Regions from separate parts of the Homo sapiens genome. Here all the other regions are linked to region 1. The links come from fine-mapping of genetic effects on gene expression. A gene starts in region 1. Each other region holds a variant in brackets. All regions are shown on one strand. Distances are between the middles of the regions.

Region 1 (4,121 bases):
ATTAAACTGAAAATTTTCCTGCCAATCTTAGATTTGTAGATTCTGTAGATTACCAGTACATCAGATCCAATATGAAATGCAGTCATAAAAGATTTTCACAAAAACTTAAGGACTGTCACTGTGACAAACCCCAGCCCAAACAGTCCAGGACAATGGCTCTAAAAAGCAAACATCTTCAATTATCAAGCTGTGTACATGTAAACACAACAGGAACCAGACTTCTGAGTAGCTGCAAACTGCAGTTCTCTGTGATGGGAGAACATGCCCCAGAACAGCCTGTCAAGTGGTAATTGCCAGCCATCCTCAGTCACATATGTATAAACAGAAAAGAAAAACAAAACGAGGGCTCAAATAAAAAGCGTTAACATTCATTAAACGCCTGACACTCTATTAAATGTTTTTCATGCATTACCTTCTTTAATCCTCACAACACCCTTCCAAAGTTGAACATGAAACAACCACACTGGTTTATATCACTTTAAATGTAAGACTACACGTCTCAAATGGGCCCTGAGCACTGCCTGGGAATCCAACTCTATTTCTCTAGTACGCTCACTTTCACCCTCTCTAGGACTCTGTCACATATCTCTCCTCCAAGTTCCCACACCTTTCCTCTCCCCCGCTGCCCTCCCTCTAAGCTGATGGATGCCTATACCAATAGACTCTTTTCCCACCACCCACTGTATCTGCACCTGTTATCTCAGCTTCCCCTCTAGTTACAACAGAGTAAGTGTCCCTGCTCATTTCAAAACCAACTACTCACCTGCTTAGGGTCTTCTCCTTTCTCAGGTATTCAACAACTACCCTTTACAATGTTCCCCTCTTTCATCTGCAGCAGTTTTTCCTTTCTACGAGTTTAATCACATTGCCATATAAACATTCTGCTTTCTTCTATCTTGAAAAAAACTCTACCCAACCTTAAGGCCCCTCTTCCCCATTAAAGTTGTTCTTGTCAAAATGATTAAAATCCTCCTAATTACCAAAGTCATCTTATACGGTAACATTCAACATGGTTGACCACTACCTCCCTCCCTTTTTTGGCTTCGCCTCCTCTTCTTTGTGTACACTATTAAACTAGATGTCTTCACCAGTCCCATATATTTTAAATACTATGTACAGTATATGATGCCGATTCCAAAGGTTAACTCTAGCCCGACATCCTCCAGAACTTCAGATTTAAATTTCTAAAAAGCACATTTGATATCTCAACCCAAATATCTACTAGATAATTTATGTGTGTATATTTCACCATACTAAAAAAAACTACCAGGTGACTGATAAATGGAGAGAAGGTGAATAGGTAATGTGAAAAATCAAATGTGCTAAATATTCATGGCACCTGTAGGTGGTAGGTGGTCAGAGTCCTCTGCAAAATTCTTCCCAGCTATGCTTATGTCTTCTATTGGGAAAAACCTACTGGGCATCTCAAACCTAACACATTCAAAACATAAGTACTGATTCCACAACTTCCAAAAATGAAACCTACCCCATCCTACAGTTTTCCTTGAGTCAAGGCTAGCATATGAGGGCCTTGGCATATGGGGGCATTGCCTATCGCGTTCATAGATATTCTGAGCTTCTAGAACAGCATCTGGCACACAGGAGGCGTTCAAAATAGCTGCTGAATGGATTGATGAATTCATGTTCTTTCTTTCTAGGTCCCTCGACCTCCACCCGCCCTTGAGTCATTGGGAAGTTCTGGGCTGTCTCAGCGCCTGATGATGGCTTCTTACCAATCATACCACACGGCTGCTCCTCAGGGAGTTGGTGGCATTCCCCTACCACAGAGCCACAGGGTTCCTGTCCCGGTCCCGTCTCGCATAGGCGCCCCAACACGCGTCACAGTGCAGCTGGCATCACACGGCCAGAATCACGTCCTGCCCTCTGGCTGCAGCGACACTACTTCACAGCTCAGGCCCACCCGGGCAGTCTCCCGGGCCAGGGCCACAACCCACGCCTTGTGACCCCTGCACGTCAACGGCATCTTCCTTCTTCACGCCCGCCCTCCCACAGCCCGGCGCAGCGGCCTCCCGCACGCCCCCTGCCCACCTGGCCCCCAGCCACCTTTCCTCACCTGGGCCTGCGGGGCCGCCCCAACTGTCCCGCTGCAACCCCAGCAGCCTCGCCAGTTGGGTCCACGCCTAGCCTGCCGGCCTTCGTCGCTATCCAATCCCACCTGCGCCCGCGAGCCTGCGCACTGGAGCTTTGCCCTGCGCCGCGGCACTCTGCCCTGCGCCGCGGCCCTCTGCTTGCCAGGCCGGGAGAGACAGAACCTGCCTCTACCGGTCTTCCAAGGCACTGAGAGCCCATCGCCGCGGACGCCGCTGTAAATTCCCTGCGGGCCCTGTGCACCACCCTGTGCGGGTCCCCCTCTCCCAGGCCAGGCTGATAATGTCAACAGCTCTCTGAGCTATGCTCATATCCTGAACCACTGAGGACTGTGTTCTCCAGGAATGCTCGCCTGACCCACGCCTGCCCTCTAAGCCCCTAATGAGGCCCCAGAGGGCTGGGGTGGGGGGGTCTCTTTGTAGTATCAGAGCAGGGCAGATAGGCAAAAGGAGTCAGAGCCTGTGCCAGAATATGAGGTCAGTTGGCTGCTAGGTCAATTAAGACAACTTCAGCAAGGGTGGTCAATGTAGAGGGAATTCAATCGTTGGCATTGCCTGAAAACAGGAAGCCAGAATCTTTTTATCTTGACGAACAAACCTCTATTCATTGGTCCTGACCTGAGCCACTTTGGTGAATCCAGATACCCTGAAGGTGTGACAAGACCTGCCTCACTTATCCCCCAGCCTTCAGTGCTGGTCCCACAGAGAGCCATATGCTTGAGCTGAACTGCAGTTAAGCAGTGACAGCTACCCTCTGTCCAGGCTCTGAGGCCAGCCTTCTGCTCCGTGAGTCACTGACAGTGAGTCTCTACAGAGACTTTTTCTTTCTGTAGCAGCCAAGGTACCCTGCAAGCAACCCACGCCATTGCCATATGTCTTAGTTTGTTTGTGTTGCTATAAAGCAATACCTGAGGCTGGGTAATTTATAAAGAAAAGAGGTTTGTTAGTTTCACAGTTTCACAGGCTGTAAAAGAAACATGGCACCACCACCCGCTTTTGATGAGGGCCTCAGGAAGCTTCCACTCATGGCAGAAGACAAAGGAGAGCCAATGTGTGCAAGACAGAGGAAGAGAGAGAGGTGGGAGGTGCCAGGCTCTTTTCCATGACCAGTTCTCATGAAAACAAAGACTAAGAACTCACTCAGTTCCATGAGACTAGCACCAAGTCATTCATAAAGGATCTACCCACATGACCCAGACACTTCCCACCAGGCCCCACCTCCAACATTGGGGATCAAATTTCAACACTAGATTTTATTTATTTATTTATTTATTTTGAGATGGAGTCTCGCTCTGTCGCCCAGGCTGGAGTGCAGTGGCGTGATCTCAGCTCACTGTAATCTCCACCTCCCCAGTTCAAGTGATTCTCCTGCCTCAGCCTCCCCAGTAGCTGGGACTACAGGAGCATGCCACCATGCCTGGCTAATTTTTGTATTTTTAGTAGAGACGAGGTTTCACTGTGTTGGCCAGGCTGGTCTTGAACACCTGACCTCAGGTGATCCGCCCGCCTCAGCCTCCCAAAGTGCTGGGATTACAGGCATGAGCCAACGCACCCAGCCCAACATTAGATTTAGATGGGACAAATATCCAAACTATATCACCAGGGTAAGATTCCCCTTTAAAGATGGACCCCATGTCTAATGTTTCTTCATAGTGCCTAACATCAAGATTCTGCACTGGTCATCATTTCACAAACATGAGCAGCATGGCTGCTCCAAGACACACAGAGGGAATAACCCCCATTCACATCACCAGGAAATCCTTGCATGGAGGCTAAATGAACAGTTGGTAAGAGTGGACCCTGAGGTGTCATTCCATCTCCCCCAGACTTCCTGCTTGACCACACAATATTCCCAGAAGCCAGTGACCCAGAAGGCTCTTCTTGGCTTTCTGTCCTTTTACCTGTGAAAAATTCGAAGAACTATAAAGTTTAGGGCCCATCACAGTTTACTACCCTTCTTTGGAGGCCTCTTTAAACCCTTGAGTCTTACCAATTACCAGTAGCACTAGGAGC
Region 2 (4,121 bases), 190 kb before region 1:
ACTGGTGCCCAGCACAAAATGTTCTGGTAAAGCTACTGGAGTAAAGGAATGAATGGGTGGGGCACCTTGGAGGGAAATGGAGGTTTCTGGCTCTCTTTGTTACCACATTGCCTAGGAAAGTGTTTCTCTCAGCTCCCAGCATCACGGCTGGAGAAACATCTTACATGTTCAGCAACTGGCTCTGCCCTTCTCTCAGATGGAAGGTCTGACTCAGCCAGGGTCTGGGTCTTGGTCTTTAGTGGTAAAATGTTCTCTCTTACAACCTAGAGTCTTGGGGGTGATGGTCCCAAATACTGTGGGCAGGGAGGGAAAGGACTTCTGTGCTGGGGCAAGGATGCTGGACTCTAGCCTGCTACCTTGCTGTTACCAAATGTGCTCCTTTGTCATTTTGGGCCCATCTGAAGGGCTCCCGAGCTTGAGCCTCATGCAGCACCCAACCAGGATTTAGATAAGACGAAGACGATGTGTGGAGGGAAGCCCAGGGGTGGGCCTGCAGGAGATCCTAGGCACTTCAGGACAATGGGCATCTCCTGAGAGAGAACGTGCTCATGAGAAGAGGGTCCACACATACACTTGCGAAAGGCTTTCAGAGCCATGGTGGCCTGAAAACAGGGCCTTGGATCACCTCACTGGTGCCAGGAAGGAGGAAAGGGGAGGACACAACAGTCTACTTTCCACAGCAAAAAGCATCCACAGAGCCCCTCGCAGTGGTTCATGCGTCCATCTTCTTTACTACTCCTGGCTGCAGTGAAGGTCAGAAAATGTAGTCTCTCAGCTGGGCACATCACTGTCCCAGATAAAAATAGGGGTGCTGTTAGGAAGCAAGAGGCAGGCACTGACAGAGCAGCCTCTGCCGCCTCCACTTTTTCAGCTGCCCGACGTTCACACAGGCTGTTCCTACCCACCGGACACACGCCTCACATCCTCCAGGGACACCATCCCCAAGTGCCATCAGCTGCCACAGCCAACCCAAAGGCCTGATCTGCATGATGGGCGGCTCCCTCCCTCAGGTATCACGTGGCCATCTTCTCCAGCTCACCTGGTGGCCTTGTGAGCCATACACCTAAGGACAAGTCATCTCACCCAGCACCCTCCATATAAAGGACAGGGAAGGGACAGGACAACCCCAACAAAAACTCTCAGGAAAACTTCTGAACCACTGCTGTCCATAGCGATGATCAAATCCTGCTTATCGGAAATTCGAATCCCTTCTCTGGCACCGGAGTCAATTCCAGGTTAAATGGCAAGGTGGGGTCCCCCTCGTCCATGGTCTTTGTGATCCCTGGCACCTCTCCATGGGCTCTTCTGAAATGGGGAGTCCCCTTCTTCTTTTAGGAACCTGCACACCTCCTGTTGGTGTAGTTCAGGGGCCTGAAAACGACTTTAGGGGATGAGGATCCAAAGTCCCCATGTTCCTGTTTAGCAGACGGTGCTCTAGTGTTGCAGGTTGGGTCTGAGCCCCCTCTCCCTGCCTCTGACCACGCGGCCTCTTTCTCAGCTCCCGTGAGCTTCTGGGCACTGCTAAGGCTGGTACTGCCATGCAATGTGGGATCAGATTGAACCATGTGAAAGTACCGTTTAGCAGGACAAAAATGGTCAAATGGCAATAAGTTCCAATAATTCAACCTAGTACAAATGTTAACCTATTGCTGAGGGGGCTTCATTTGAAACTGGATTTGACACAAGGAGAAAATACAAGTCAAATATTTAAACAGTGGCCGACACATTGCAAGCAATCAATGAATAGTTATTG[A/G]TTCTATTATCAGTAGAATTATATTAATCAATAGAGTGATTGATAGACTCTATTATTGATATTGTCATTGAACACACAACATTAATCAATGTTATTGTGGAAAGTTTAACTGGAATTGGTGAAAGGTATTTTGGACTCCACATTGTCCTGGTTATTATTTCCTCTCCGCCATGTCCAGGGTTAAACAGTGCCACATTTAACCACAGTCTATAGCCACACTCAATAGCCAGTCTATCGAGACTGCACAAATTGAACTCTGTTATCTCAGACTTTGTCACATTTTTTCCTAGTTCATTCTGGCTGAACGTTAGACTCCTTTGGGGGTAATTTTTAAATGTTGAATCAGAGTCTTGGAGGTAAGGCTTGGATGTTAGTGTGATTCTAATACAGGGCAAGAATTAAGAACCACAGACCTAGCTGATATGTATAATCTATTATTCTTTTGTCTGGTCCATCAATGCTGGTGGAGGGCAGAGATGCATTCGCCAGAGCATCCAGGAGCACTCAGCAGGAGAGGTGGGGATGGTTGCTAGCTAACGTGGGGGTGACTTCTCCCTGGTTTTGCAAGAAGCTACCCCTGGGAGAGAACTATGGGCTAATGCAAAAGGTGACAGCAAGGCTATTCGGCACTCATTATATGAGTGTGTCTCAATTATTTATCCATTCTATTGTTGATGACATTGGGATTATTTCCAGTTTGGAACAATTGCATGGAACTACTATCCATGTCTATTTTTGTAGATATAAGCAAAATCTTTTATTACTACAGATTCACACATATATTTTTTCATTGTTACACTTCTTGATACATAAATTATCTGAAATATGGTCAATGGGACTGCCTTAAGGCTGGCTTCTGTATTCTTTTGACGTATTTCCAGTATTATTCAAGCACTTTCTTACTTTCTGACATAACAAAGTGCTCCAGACTTATTTTCTTTCTCCAGGCCTATAATTATCGATTTCTCCAAGAATATCTGACTCATTTCAGTGAAAAATGGTATTTGGAAACCAAGATTTGGGTTACTAGATAGACTCATTGCTGCTGTTATTTGTCTTTTTGGTAGGCAGAACTTGGAGGTGTGGATGGATGAGTGAAAGGGATATACCTAAAATCATGAATTTATAGTGATATTTCTAATTCAAATTTAATAAAATAGGGTTTTTCCTTTTAGTTTTTACTTGTACCTTCTTTTCCTTATAATGAAAGTCTTAGTTCTCAATATTAGTGTATTTACCCATTTGTTTTCTCTTATAATATCCACAATGTTTCTTGCTCCATAAAATAAATATAATCAGTATCTTGTGATTCCTCACTATGTAATTCGGTGCCCCTGAACTTCTTTGTGCCTCTCCTAAACACAGCATGCCTTTTAGATTTTGAAAAGTTTTATCACTTATGCCTTGCTCTGCAAATACATCTTTCGTGATTGATTTGTATGTTGATTCTGAAAATCAAACACAAATGACTAGCATTTTTGTTAGTGTGATGATGTGTTAAGTTGAATCATATGAAAATTATGGCAATTTCCTATGGTATAATTAGTCATTTTTATTAGAGAAACGTGCTTAAAAATAAGCTTATTTTCCTAGGTCGGTGAATGTTTGCTGTTCTATAGATAGTATTCCAAAGTTTAAAGTCAAACCTATTCCCTTCTTAAATGCTATTGATTACACAAGATTATACCAAGATTAGCTTGTTGTGTGTTTGTACCATAACTTTTACAGTTTTTTGTTTTGTCTGGAGAATCTGATTACCTTTTCATTTTTCTTTATAGCAGAGAGATCACTTGCCTTCTAAACCATATTTATAAGACATTTGAGCTTTTAATCATACTTGTTGAGTGCATTGATGTTTTAGCCAGGCACAGTAGTTTCTGCCTGTAATCCCAGCACCAGCACTTCGGGAGGCCAAGGTGGTAAGATCAGTTGAGGTCCAGAGTTTTGAGACCAGCCTGGCCAACACAGTGACACCTCGTCTCTACTAACAATACAAAAATTAGCCCAGCATCGTGGCGCACACCACACTTGTAATCCCAGCTACGCAGGAGGCTGACGTCAGCAAATAGCTTGAACGGGAGAAGCGAAAATCACAGTGAGCCAATATTGCACCAGTGCACTCCAGCCTGGGTGGCAGAGTAAGATCTTGTCTCAAAAGAAAAAAAAAAAACCGGGGACCTTCGCAGTGAGTGTTACAGCTCCTAAGCCAAGTGTTACAGCTCTTAAAGGTGGCATGGACCCAAACGGTAAGCAGCAGCAAAATATATCGTGAGGAACTAAACAACAAAGCTCCCACAGCGTAAGAAACAATCCTAGCAGCTTACCGCTGCTGGCTGGTGTGGGAGTGGGGCGGGTACAGCTTTTATTC
Region 3 (4,121 bases), 95 kb before region 1:
TGCCTGGATGATTCTCCCACACAGTATGTGACCTGAGAAGTCAGGAATGATCATTGTGCTCTAATGTCATAGCAAGTGGCATGCCACCTAGCTCTGGGGGTGGCAGTCGGTGCCAGAGGCCCTGTCATTGTCTTCCCTAGAGGCCATAAGAACTCTCATGGAAATAAGTTGACCCCACAGGTATGCCAGCCCAGACATCCTGGTGAGGCCCCAGCATGCCCCAGTTCTCAACGGCAAGCAGCTCGGGAAGTACCGAAAGGACCCAGGCACCATTTAGTTTTGTAAGGCCATTCAGTAAAGCTCAGGCTCTTGGAAAGCCAGCCTCTTTGATTCAGTCCTTTGTTGCTACTCGCTTTAATGTTTACCTCATTTTCTGCTTCATGCAGCCAGAATTACTGGTAAATAAGCCCTTCAGCAACCGTAGAGTCTTGTGCTCTGCTGGAGATGTATATGCTTGGAGAATGAAATACTGTGAACATACATATTTCAGTTTGGACTGTGAAATGCCTTCTATACATCTGATTTGTAAGAGAGATGGTTCTGATCGCTAACATCTCAGTGGTGATCCTGAGGAGAAAGGCTTGACAGAATTTTAAAGGTGCTCTATGGAGTATAATTAACCAAATCCACCCCCCCTCCGTATCTGAAAAAGAATTCTGGCAGTGTTACCAGTGAGGAAGATAGGTTCTTTTGCATAAAGGGACGTTTAGTTGTTTCCCTGGGGTTATTATTTCCAAGCCTGGCTGTGTGATGGACTCAGTTTCCCCAGTTGCATTCCAATCCATTCTTCAGACCAGTCCAAAACAGTACTTAACTTATAGGAGAGAAACAGTGTTTTACCATAAAATGTGCTTCTGTTGTAAGTTTGCTGTAGCTATGCCCTAGCAGATTAAGGTAATTCCCTTCTATTCCAAGTTTACTAAAATTTTTTATTTTTAAAATATAGAATGGATATCAAATTTGATTCGAATTTTTTTTCTGCATCTATTGAGGAATGGCTCTTGGGAACAATATTTTCTGAGCTCTTGCATGTTGATTTCAATTTTCACCCTGTGCATCAAGGTCAGTTTTTCTAGACATAACATATTGGCTCATAAAAATCTTTCCTTGGACATCTTATTATTCCATCTTCTTTTGTATTAAAGCATTACTCTTAAAAATCTGATAATCATCTAATTTTCTTTTCCTCATATTCTTTTGCGTAAATCCTCCCCCCTCCCCATTTTCTTTCTTCAAACTGCAGCAATTTTACTTAAAATTTATTAAACCTTGGTATTGGTCATACTCATTTGATGGTTTCAGGTATGTACTATGATACTTCAACATATAATTTTAAAAACAATTATTTCAGGAAAATTTTCTTTAATTATTACTCTAAATATTTCTTGAATTAGTGAATTTGTTCTGAACCCTTGCTTTGGTTTTTCTTCTTTAAACTTTCTGTTATCTATCTACTAGTCTTCTTTACCTATCATTGATCCTTCTTATGCTCTTAAATCCTGTTTTCTTTCTCCATTTTGTTTTGAAATTATTCCTCTTAAGCTTTCTATTTATTGTAAAGCATCAGTTATCAATTTTTTTGTGTTCCTTCTAGTTTATAGATTTTATTTCTAATTTTTGTTTCTAACTCTTTCTTGATTTTCATACTGCTTTAAATTTTTCTAGTTCTGATTTTTGTTATTCCATCCTGTTTTATGCAATTCTCCTATTGTCTTTAAGCTCATTTTGAAATAGTAGGATATC[G/A]TTTTCTGTGACTTCCCGAGCTGCTTGCCATTGAGAACTGTGTTTTGAGTGTATCTTTCTGGTGTACCTTCATTGTTTGTAAGGGATGCTATTCAGCTCCTCAGTCTTTTTTTTTTCTTATGGTAACTTGTACGGGATTTGATCATAATATTTTCTAGTGCTTGTTTCCATGTGAATTTGGATTTCCTGAACTAAACTTGACTTGGACAGACAGCTCTTATAAGTTCACTGAGCTTGCTTTCTGAGGTTTTCTGGCTCTATTCTCCTCAATCACTTTTATAGGATCTTCTCTTTTCTTTATCCCATTCTCTCCATTCTCTCCTCAACTTTGATTCTAAGGTTTCTCCTCAGTGTGACTCTGTTCTGGAAAGGAGCCCTGGCTGGTCACCTTTTAGAGCAGATAAGAGCTACACTGCTCTAACCCCTTCAGGCCCTACCATGTACTCCTCGCACTTTTCCACTTTGAAGGTGAAATTAAAGGGATACAAAGAAATGGAAGAACATTCCATGCTCATGGGTAGGAAGAATCAATATCGTGAAAATGGCCATACTGCCCAAGGTAATTTATAGATTCAATGCCATCCCCATCAAGCTACCAATGACTTTCTTCACAGAATTGGAAAAAACTACTTTAAAGTTCATATGGAACCAAAAAAGAGCCCGCATCGCCAAGTCAATCCTAAGCCAAAAGAACAAAGCTGGAGGCATCACGCTACCTGACTTCAAACTATGCTACAAGGCTACAGTAACCAAAACAGCATGGTACTGGTACCAAAACAGAGATATAGATCAATGGAACAGAACAGAGCCCTCAGAAATAACGCCACATATCTACAACTATCTGATCTTTGACAAACCTGAGAAAAACAAGCAATGGGGAAAGGATTCCCTATTTAATAAATGGTGTTGGGAAAACTGGCTAGCCATATGTGGAAAGCTGAAACTGGATCCCTTCCTTACACCTTATACAAAAATTAATTCAAGATGGATTAAAGACTTAAACATTAGACCTAAAACCATAAAAACCCTAGAAGAAAACCTAGGCATTACCATTCAGGACATAGGCATGGGCAAGGACTTCATGTCTAAAACACCAAAAGCAATGGCAACAAAAGCCAAAATTGACAAATAGGATCTAATTAAACTAAAGAGCTTCTGCAGAGCAAAAGAAACTACCATCAGAGTGAACAGGCAACCTACAAAATGGGAGAAAATTTTTGCAACCTACTCATCTGACAAAGGGCTAATATCCAGAATCTACAATGAACTCAAACAAATTTACAAGAAAAAAACAAACAACCCCATCAAAAAGTGGGCAAAGGACATGAACAGACACTTCTCAAAAGAAGACATTTATGCAGCCAAAAAACATACGAAAAAATGCTCACCATCACTGGCCATCAGAGAAATGCAAATCAAAACCACAATGAGATACCATCTCACACCAGTTAGAATGGCAATCATTAAAAAGTCAGGAAACAACAGGTGCTGGAGAGGATGTGGAGAAATAGGAACACTTTTACACTGTTGGTGGGACTGTAAACTAGTTCAACCATTGTGGAAGTCAGTGTGGCGATTCCTCAGGGATCTAGAACTAGAAATACCATTTGACTCAGCCATCCCATTACTGGGTATATACCCAAAGGACTATAAATCATGCTGCTATAAAGACACATGCACATGTATGTTTATTGCAGCACTATTCACAATAGCAAAGACTTGGAACCAACCCAAATGTCCAACAATGATAGACTGGATTAAGAAAATGTGGCACATATACACCATGGGATAGTATGCGGCCATAAAAAATGATGAGTTCATGTCCTTTGTAGGGACATGGATGAAATTGGAAATCATCATTCTCAGTAAACTATCGCAAGGACAAAAAACCAAACACCGCATGTTCTCACTCATAGGTGGGAATTGAACAATGAGAACACATGGACACAGGAAGGGGAACATCACACTCTGGGGACTGTTGTGGGGTGGGGGGAGGGGGGAGGGATAGCATTAGGAGATATACCTAATGCTAAATGACGAGTTAATGGGTGCAGCACACCAGCATGGCACATGTATACATATGTAACTAACCTGCACATTGTGCACATGTACCCTAAAACATAAAGTATAATAATAATGAAATTAAAAAAAAAAAAAAGAAAGTGAGCAATGCCCATCCAGTTTCAGACGCCATCCTCAGCTTAGCCCCACCACACCTCCTAGTAAATATCTGTTGGATCTTTAGGCTGTGTTCAGGTCTATCAGTTGGTAAATAAAACGGGTCCTTCACCAGAGTTTGAGAAGCATTGCTGAAGGAATCAGCAGAGGGAGAGATGAGTGTTAGAAGGCTTCATAGAAGAGATAGTTCTTAGGCCAGG
Region 4 (4,121 bases), 520 kb after region 1:
TTCCCAGCCTCCAGAACTGTGCAAAATAAGTGTCTGTTATTTAAGCCACCTATTTATGGTATTTTGTATGTCAGTCTGAAAAGACTAAGACATGTTGGTGAATAGCTGCTGCATCCCCAACACCCAGGAGCCTCCCCTGGGGCCCCACAGACACCCTGCCATCCAGCACTAAGGGTTGAGGCCTGGCCCTGCAGGGGCCGCTACTCGAGCTCTGCTCCACCCCTGCAGACAGCACCCATTCAGGTGAGTGGGTTGTGCTGCACCAGTTGTTAAATATTCTGAGCACCACTTGTGGTGGATTTAAAAACAGCCCCCAGATTCGTTGACACTCTTCTCATTGACAGATTGGGTCTGTGTCCCCTTTCCTTGAAGCTGGGGTGGCTTGTGGTGTCTTCAACTGATAGGGCACCGGGGAAGTGATGCCATGTGACTCCTGACGCTAACTCACAGAAGGCAATGTGGTGTCCTTCTTGTCCACTGGGAGACGGTGGAGCCCTACCACTTGCTACCCTGAGGCCACCTTGCTGGAGAAGCTACGTGTAGGAGCGCAGGGGACAGTCCCAGTTGAGCCTGGCCTTCCAGCCATCTCACCAGGGGCCCAACATGTGAGTGAAGAGGCATCCAGATGGTTGCACCCCTCTGCCCTAGAGTCACCCCAACCTTCAGGTCTTCCCAACTGAGACTGAGTCGTCTTACTTGTTGGGTCAGAGACAAGCACCTTGCTGTGCCCTCCAGAACTGCTGACCCACAGAATCTGTGAACATTATACATGAGGATTTTATGCTACTGGCTCTGGGGTGGTTCGAAAGGCAGCAGTTGTAACTGGGAGCCCACCCTGTATAGAAATGTGAGGAAACTGAGGCTCAGAGAGAGAGTAAGTGACTCAGTCACTGATATAGTTTGGATATCCCCTCCAAATTTCATGTTGAAATGTGATCCCCAGTGTTGGAGGTGGGGCCTGGTGGGAGGTGTTTAGGTCAGGGGGCAGATCCCTCATGGCCTGATGCTGTCCTCACCATCTTGAGCTCTGACAGGATCTGGCTGTTTAAAAGTGTGTGGCACCTCCCCCCACCTCTCTTGCTCCCACTCTCGCTACGTGATGTTGGCTCCCCCTTCACCTTCTGCCATGACTGTAAGGTCCCTCCAGAGGCCTCCCCAGAAGCTGAGCAGATGCCGGCACCATGCTTCCTATATAGCCTGCAGGACTGTGAGCCAATTAAACCCCCTTTTTAAATAAATTACCCAGACTCAGGTATTGCTTTATGGCAACACAAGAATAGCCTAACACAGTCAAAGTCATGGAGCTGGTGCAGGGCAGAGCCAGAATCTGCCTCCCGTCCAAGTGAATTCAGAGCCCACGCTATTCCCATCTCCCTGATCAGGCTGGTTCCTGGGCACACGCTTACCCCTCAGGGCCACTTGAGGGGAAGTTTGCAAACTGGAGCATGTTCAGGGGTGATGGCCCCAAACAGGCTCCAGGAGGGACCACTGAAGGGACTGGGGACACTGGGCTTTGACAGAGGTCATCGCAGAATTTGTGGGCCTTCTTCAGATATCCAAAATGTTGTTACTGGGAGGGAATAAGTGTTGTGGCCCTAGATGGCAGAGGTGTGGGCTTGATGCGGCTGATTTTGGTTCAGGTAAAACAAGAACTTTGCTGGTCACATCCATTGGAAAAAGATTGGGCTGTCAAAGGACGCAGTGAGTCCCATCTTTGGAGGCAGCCAAGTGCACCCGGAGTACTCAACTGCACCCTGAGTATCACCAGTACACCCTGAGTACCCAAGTGCACCCCAAGCACACCAAGGACCACCCCTGGGTGGATGCCAAGGGGGTAGTCAGGCCACAGGTCGGAACAGCACCAGCTGACTTTAAATCCCTCTCTAACCCTGAGATACAAGGATGTAGCCTACACATCAGGAGGTGAATAGAATCTACCCTCATTTGCAAGAGTTGTCCCCAGGGCAGCGGTGGCTGCAGCCCATCCAGTGTTCCCACTGGGAGATGCCCACGAGGTGCTCAGGTACAGCCCATCCAGTGTT[C/T]CCACTGGGAGATGCCCACGAGGCGCTCAGGCTTCGTGGCTCCCCAAAGCTCTGTTTCTGACAAATTAAATTGGTCCTACACTGGTCCCTGCTAAACATCCAAAGATACTTTGAGTTGAATACAAATCTTTATTATTTTGAAAACCACAGCAAAGGCACTTCAGAATCTCCAGGTACCCAGTCTCAGTTGCCGTTCAGTGGGGACAAGAGTGGTGCTGAGGGCATGGTCACACCCTTCTGTGCTGCATGCAGAGGGGTGCAAGGCCAGGGCAGCTGACCTGGTCAGCCACCAGGGGAGCCCACGCCTCTTATAACACAGTGTCCTTGGGTCAGGAATTTGTAGTTTATTTTGTTATTAAGATGGCGAGAGAATTTTTCGTCCATTTAGAGCCTAACATTTTTAGATGAATGTTAATGGCATCTCGGTTGGGATGGATTCGTGTTCATTTCTCAGCTGCTGAAGGATGTGTGTTCTAAAACAAAAGGGCTCCCAGCCAGCTCTCCGGCTGCATGATAGAGAAGTGTTTTGTAAGACGCTTGTTAAAAACCCATATTCCCTGGCCCCTCTTGTGGAGACCCTGTTTCAGTAGATGGGAATGGGGCTGGGGTCTGTATAACCTGTGCCCAGGAGACTCTGTGACCAGCTTGGGAAGCTCCTGCAGGGAGGAAGGAATGATCCACAAGTCCCCAAGCCCTTCATGCTGAGGCATCTGTCTGGCTGGAGAAACACTAAGGTTGGCATTGTGCTCACACTGGGAAATGACCTGGAGGAAGTTGGGAAGAGGAGTCCAGGCCGGTTCCACCCTCTGGGTCAGAAACCCGGCTGGAAAGCACTGGAAATAGGGAAATAGAAGACCGAAAGGCTGGGACCCCCCTCACACCCAACCTGCGTCCATGGCCGAGGTTGAGTGAGGAGTCCTGGAGACTCTGGCTTCATGGTCTTTGCTCTTGTTCTTCTGTGCCTCAGGGGTCGCTGCCCACCAGGCTCAGCAGGGCGTTCTTGTAGTCGCCGCTGGTGTCTTCCTGTGGGTAGGAGGCGCATAAGCGTGAGAAGGGGTTTGTTTGTGCCTGGCTCGGCAGTGGCGGCTGTGTTATTATGACTAAGAGGTGTGCCCCTGGCCTGCACCTGGCCCGGCCCTCCAGGGTTCCTAGCCGCAGGGGTTGTGCCATCACCCCTCTTTCCTGGTTTTTAATTTCAGGCTATTCCTTTACATTTCCTTTTGATTCTCTTACCAACTACATGCAGGATTGATGTGGAAAATGAATCAGAGACAGTTCCACTCCTAAACAAGGAAGGGGTCAGCTGTCCCAGGGTTCTTCTATTCGGGAGCCAGGGTGCCCAGCCATTCATTTACACAACACGATGCATCATTATTCAACACCTGCTGTGGCAGCTTGGGAATCAAGGCTGAGAGTGAGGCATCAGCACACACCTGGGAGCAGGGCCGGGGGTGGAGGGAGCCTGGACCATCGCACCCTGACGGTGTGGCCGAGGCAAGCCCCTTCACCTCTGTGGGACTCATCTATGAAATGAGATCAATGCTGTGCTGCTGTGCATCTTGCTGAGACGTGGTGAGGGTACAGCAGGAGGAAGGCGAGCTGGTCTGCCCTGCATCTGGCTCACATCGGGTCCACAGTGTTTGTCTCCTGATGAGACTGACCTTGTGGTCCGATGACTGAGGAGCCCTGTTTCTTAGATACTGGTAGGTCCTGATGGGACTGGCTAGTCCGGGGTCTGCATACAGAGCTGGGAAATGGGCCAGGTCAGATCACCCAGATTCTTCTTCATGCAGTTGAGGACAGCGGGGCCAAGAGAGGGGAGTGAATTCATTCACAACGGCATGGTGAGTAAGGGGTAGACTGGGGCTAGACCCACTTTCCACACTCTGGACCAGTTTAGGTCTCATGGTTATTGTCTACTTTTCACCATTTAGTAAAATTTGCCTGCTTTGAGCCTGAAATCTCATTACGGGTTTCAAACTACAATGAAATTTTTTTAACTTTTTCCTTTCTAGACACGGTCTCACTCTGTCACCCAGGCTGGAGTGCAGTGATGCAGTCCTAGCTCACGGCAGCCTT
Region 5 (4,121 bases), 670 kb before region 1:
CAAAGGCTGCAGTGAGCTGAGAATGAAACACTGCACTCCAGCCTGAGTTACAGAGCAAGACTCTGTCTCAAAGAAACCCCAAAAAAGAAAAACAGAAAAACCCACACACCAAAGAACTTACTTATGTCATCCTGCTGTTTAGTTTCTACATAAAGTGTTTTGCTCCTCAGTACCTTCTTTTGTGTTTGGTTAATGATTTATCCTGTAATATTTTGATCCTTTCTTAGTTCCTTTTCTGTATATTTTTAAAGTTTTGTTTTTAGTGGATACTATGAAGATTTCAGTTAACATGCTGAGTTCTAAGTCTAGTTCAGACTGATACCAACTCAGCTTCAATAGCATACATTAACTCTGCTCCTTTCTCTGTCCCCTAGCTATATTGTTACAAATTATGTCTTTAAACAATTAGTTCCTATTAACATAGATGCATATTATTTCATGCATGTTTTTAAATCATAAAGGAGAAAGAGGAATAACATACCCAAAATACAATAATACTAGCTTTTATATTTAGCTATATAGTTGCCTTTACCAGTGATTTTTATTTTTTCATATAGCTCTGAGTTATTATCTTGTATCTTTTCATTTTAGCCTGAAGGACTCACTTCAGCTTTTTTTTTTAGCCCGAGTCTTGCTCTGTTGCCCAGGCTGCAGTGCAGTGGCACAATCTCTGCTCACTGCAAACTCTGCCTTCTGGGTTCAAGTGATTCTCCTGCCTGAGCCTCCCAAGTAGCTGGGATTACAGGCACGTGCCATCACACACAGCAAATTTTTGTATTTTTAGTAGAGATGGGGTTTCACCATATTGGCCAGGCTGGTCTCGAACTCCTGACCTCAGGTGATCCACCTGCCTCGGCCTCCCAAAGTGCAGGGATTACAGGCATGAGCCACTGTGCCCAGCCAAGCATTCTTTTTCTTTTTTTTTTTTTTTTGAGGTGGAGTTTCCCTCTTTTTGCCCAGGCTGGAGTGCAATCGGGTGTGACCTCGGCTTACTGCAACCTCTGCCTCCCAGGTTCAAGCAATTCTCCTGCCTCAGCCTCCCGAGTAGCTGGGATTACAGGCATGTGCCACCATGCCTGGCTAATTTTGTATTTTTTTAGTAGAGACAGGGTTTCTCCATGTTGGCCAGGCTGGTCTCAAACTCCCGACCTCAGGTGATCCACCCGCCTCGGCCTCCCAAAGTGCTGGGATTACAGGCGTGAGCCACCACGCCCAGACCAGGCCAAGCATTCTTATATTTTTATTCATTTATTATTTTTTTAGTGACAGGTTCTTGCTCTGTCAACCAGGCTGGAGTGCAGTGGTATGATCATACCTCACCGTAACCTCCAACTTCTGGTCTCAAACGATCCTCCTGTCTCAGCCTCATGAGTAGTTGGAACTACAGATGCACACCACCATGCCCAGCTAATTTTTTTAATTTATATTTTGTAGAGACGGGGTCTCACTATGTTGTCCAGGCTAGTCTTAAACTGCTGGCTGCAAGCAATCCTCCTGTCTCAGCCTCCTGAGTAGCTAGGACCACAGGCCAGAGCCACCTTGTCTGGCTAATTATTTTTATTTTGTAGAGATGGGGTCTCCTTATGTCGCCCAGGCTGGTTGTGGACTCCTGGCCTCAGGTGATCCCACTTCAGTCTCCAAAAGTGCTGAAGTTACAGGCATGAGCCACCATGCTGAGCTTCCCCAACCCTGTTTTTTTTTTTTTTTTTTTGAGATGGAGTCTTGCTCTGTCGCCCAGGCTGGAGTGCAATGGCGCCATCTCAGCTCACTGCAACTTCCACCTCCCAGGCTCAAGCAATT[C/T]TCCTGTCTCAGCCTCAGTCAGCTGGGACTACAGGTACATGCCACCATGCCCAGCACACCACCACTGCCTTCTATACTCCGTGATTTCTGATAAGCAACTGTTAGTCTTACTGAAGATCCCTTGTACAGGATGAATCACTTATCTCTTGCTGCTTTTCTGTCTTTAGCTTTCTACAATTTGATTATAATGTGTGTCAGTGTGGATCTCTTTGAGTTTATCCTGCTTTGAATTTGTTGAGCATCTTCAATGTGTAGATTCACAATTCCCATCAAATGTGGGATATTTTTGGTCACTATTTCTTAAAAAAATCTCTCTAGGCCAGGCACAGTGGCTCACACCTGTAATCCTGCACTTTGGGAGGCTGAGGTGGGAGGATTGTTTGAGCCTGGGAGTTCAAGACTGGCCTGGGCAACATGGTGAGACCTTGTCTCTCCAAAAAATACAGAAATTAGCTGTGCTTAGTGGTGGTATGTGCTATAGTCCTGGTGCCATATTCCCAGCTACCTGGGAGGCTGACTATAGCTGGTGCTATAGTCCCAGCTACTTGGGAGGCTGAAGGGGGAGGATTGCTTGAGCCTAGGAGGTAGAGGCTGCAGTTATCAATGAGCCATGAGATCACACCACTGCACTCCAATCTGGACGACAGAGCGAGACCATCTCAAAAAAAAAAAAAAAAAAAGATAGGGATGTATCTGCATGACTATGGATTAGGCAATGGTTTCTTACATACAACCTAAAGCACACCAACCAGAGGAAAAATAAATTATGCTTTCTCAAGATTAAAAAGGAGACTATCAAGAAAGCGCAATGACAACTAATAGATTGAGAGGAAATATTTACAAATTATATACATGATAAAGGTCAATTACCTAGAATATATATACTTCAAAGACTCATTTAGAGACAGGGTCATGCTATGTTGCCTAGACTAGTGTTGACCTTCTGGGCTCAAGTTATCCTCCTGCCTCAGCCTTCTGAGTAGCTGGGACCATAGGCCTATACTACCACAACTGGCTGTGGAGTATATAAAGAACTCTTACCACTCAATAATGTGGACAAAACCCAATTTAAAAATGAGCAAAGGCTTTAAATAGAATAAAAATGAAACATTTAAGATTGTTGAAAGTGGTTGCCTCTGGGGAGTGGAATATGGTGAGGCAGATGTCTGGATTGGAGGGGACGAGCTATTGTGAACAATAAACCTTGTATCACTATTTGGCTCTCTGGATCACAGTTCACAACAAGGGATGAATTTGCTCCACAGGGGACATTTGGCAATCTGAATATATTTGTCATTGTTATAACTGAGGGGTCTTCCTGACATCTAATATGTAGAGGCCAGGGATATTACTAAACATCCTACAAGGCAGAGAGAGCCCCCATAACAAAGAATTACATAGCCTAAAATGTCAATAGTGCTGAGGTGAAAAATTGTCTAAAGTATGTTTGAGGCTGGGTGCGGTGGCTCATGCCTATAATACTAACACTTTGGGAGGCTGAGGCAGGTGGAGCACCTGAGGTCAGGAGTTTGAGACCAGCCTGGCCAACATGGTGAAACTCCATCTCTACTAATAATAAAAAAATTAGTTGGGCATGGTAGCTCATGCCTGTAATCCCAGTTACGTGGGAGGCTGAGGCAGGAGAATTGCTTGAACCTGGAAGGCGGGGGTTGCAGTGAGCCAAGATCCCACCACTGCACTCCAGCCTGGGTGACAGAGTGAGATTTCATCTCAAAATAAATAAATAAACAAATGAAGTATGTTTGATAAAAATACAAATACAAGTCAATAAAAGTTATGTTAAAAAATTAAAAAATCATAAAACAATCTTTTGTACAATATCCACAGATTTACTTTTCTTTCTTTCTCTCTCTTTCTTTCCTTCCTTCCTTCTTTCTTTCTTGCTTGCTTTCTTTCTTTTTTTTTTTTTTTTTTTTGAGTTTCACTCTTGTTGCCCAGGCTGGAGTGCAATGGCACAATCTCAGCTCAATGCAACCTCTGCCTCTCAGGTTCAAGCGATTCTCCTGCCTCAGCCTCCTGAGTAGCTGGGATTACAGGCATGTGCCTGCTTAGTGGGGGTATAAGCCCTCCTTACCAAGTAGAGAAAAAGGGGAGAAAATCACATTGCTAAAGCAATTGTGTTAAGCCCCATATTATCTTTACTTGTGGAAGAATGCAGCTTTGACCTATTATTCGACACTTAGCACATATAAAATTTTAGGCCTTAGCTTTCAGTTCCTCAGATCGTAGCAAATTGAAGTGTTAGGCTAACAAATTAGCTTACAGGCAATAACAGAAATCACTGACTGCACTACTACTGA

The links. PIP is the estimated chance that this variant, and not a neighbour inherited with it, causes the effect. A credible set is the group of variants that fine-mapping cannot tell apart.
Region 2: its variant is the best candidate, but not a certain one, in a credible set for the expression of PTPN20 in whole blood (TOPMed, PIP 0.82).
Region 3: its variant is the best candidate, but not a certain one, in a credible set for the expression of PTPN20 in blood mononuclear cells (TOPMed, PIP 0.75).
Region 4: its variant is the best candidate, but not a certain one, in a credible set for the expression of PTPN20 in kidney cortex (GTEx, PIP 0.73).
Region 5: its variant is the best candidate, but not a certain one, in a credible set for the expression of PTPN20 in testis (GTEx, PIP 0.51).

The regions. Positions count from the first base shown.
Region 1 is chr10:46,909,455-46,913,575 of GRCh38, reverse strand. PTPN20 (protein tyrosine phosphatase non-receptor type 20) reads right to left here and starts at 2,148. Exons shown (of 11, transcript NM_001042357.5): 1 at 2,075-2,148.
Region 2 is chr10:47,096,084-47,100,204 of GRCh38, reverse strand. No RefSeq gene overlaps it. Among named protein-coding and RNA genes, the nearest start is that of PTPN20, 190 kb to the right of the region's middle. The variant A/G (reference allele first, on the strand shown) is at 1,754.
Region 3 is chr10:47,004,888-47,009,008 of GRCh38, reverse strand. No RefSeq gene overlaps it. Among named protein-coding and RNA genes, the nearest start is that of PTPN20, 96 kb to the right of the region's middle. The variant G/A (reference allele first, on the strand shown) is at 1,744.
Region 4 is chr10:46,389,815-46,393,935 of GRCh38, reverse strand. ANXA8L1 (annexin A8 like 1) reads right to left here. Exons shown (of 12, transcript NM_001098845.3): 12 at 2,158-3,065. The coding sequence ends at 3,006. Among named protein-coding and RNA genes, the nearest start is that of LINC00842, 6.5 kb to the left of the region's middle. The variant C/T (reference allele first, on the strand shown) is at 2,043.
Region 5 is chr10:47,574,815-47,578,935 of GRCh38, reverse strand. It overlaps a transcript of ANXA8 not described here. Among named protein-coding and RNA genes, the nearest start is that of LINC02675, 43 kb to the left of the region's middle. The variant C/T (reference allele first, on the strand shown) is at 1,801.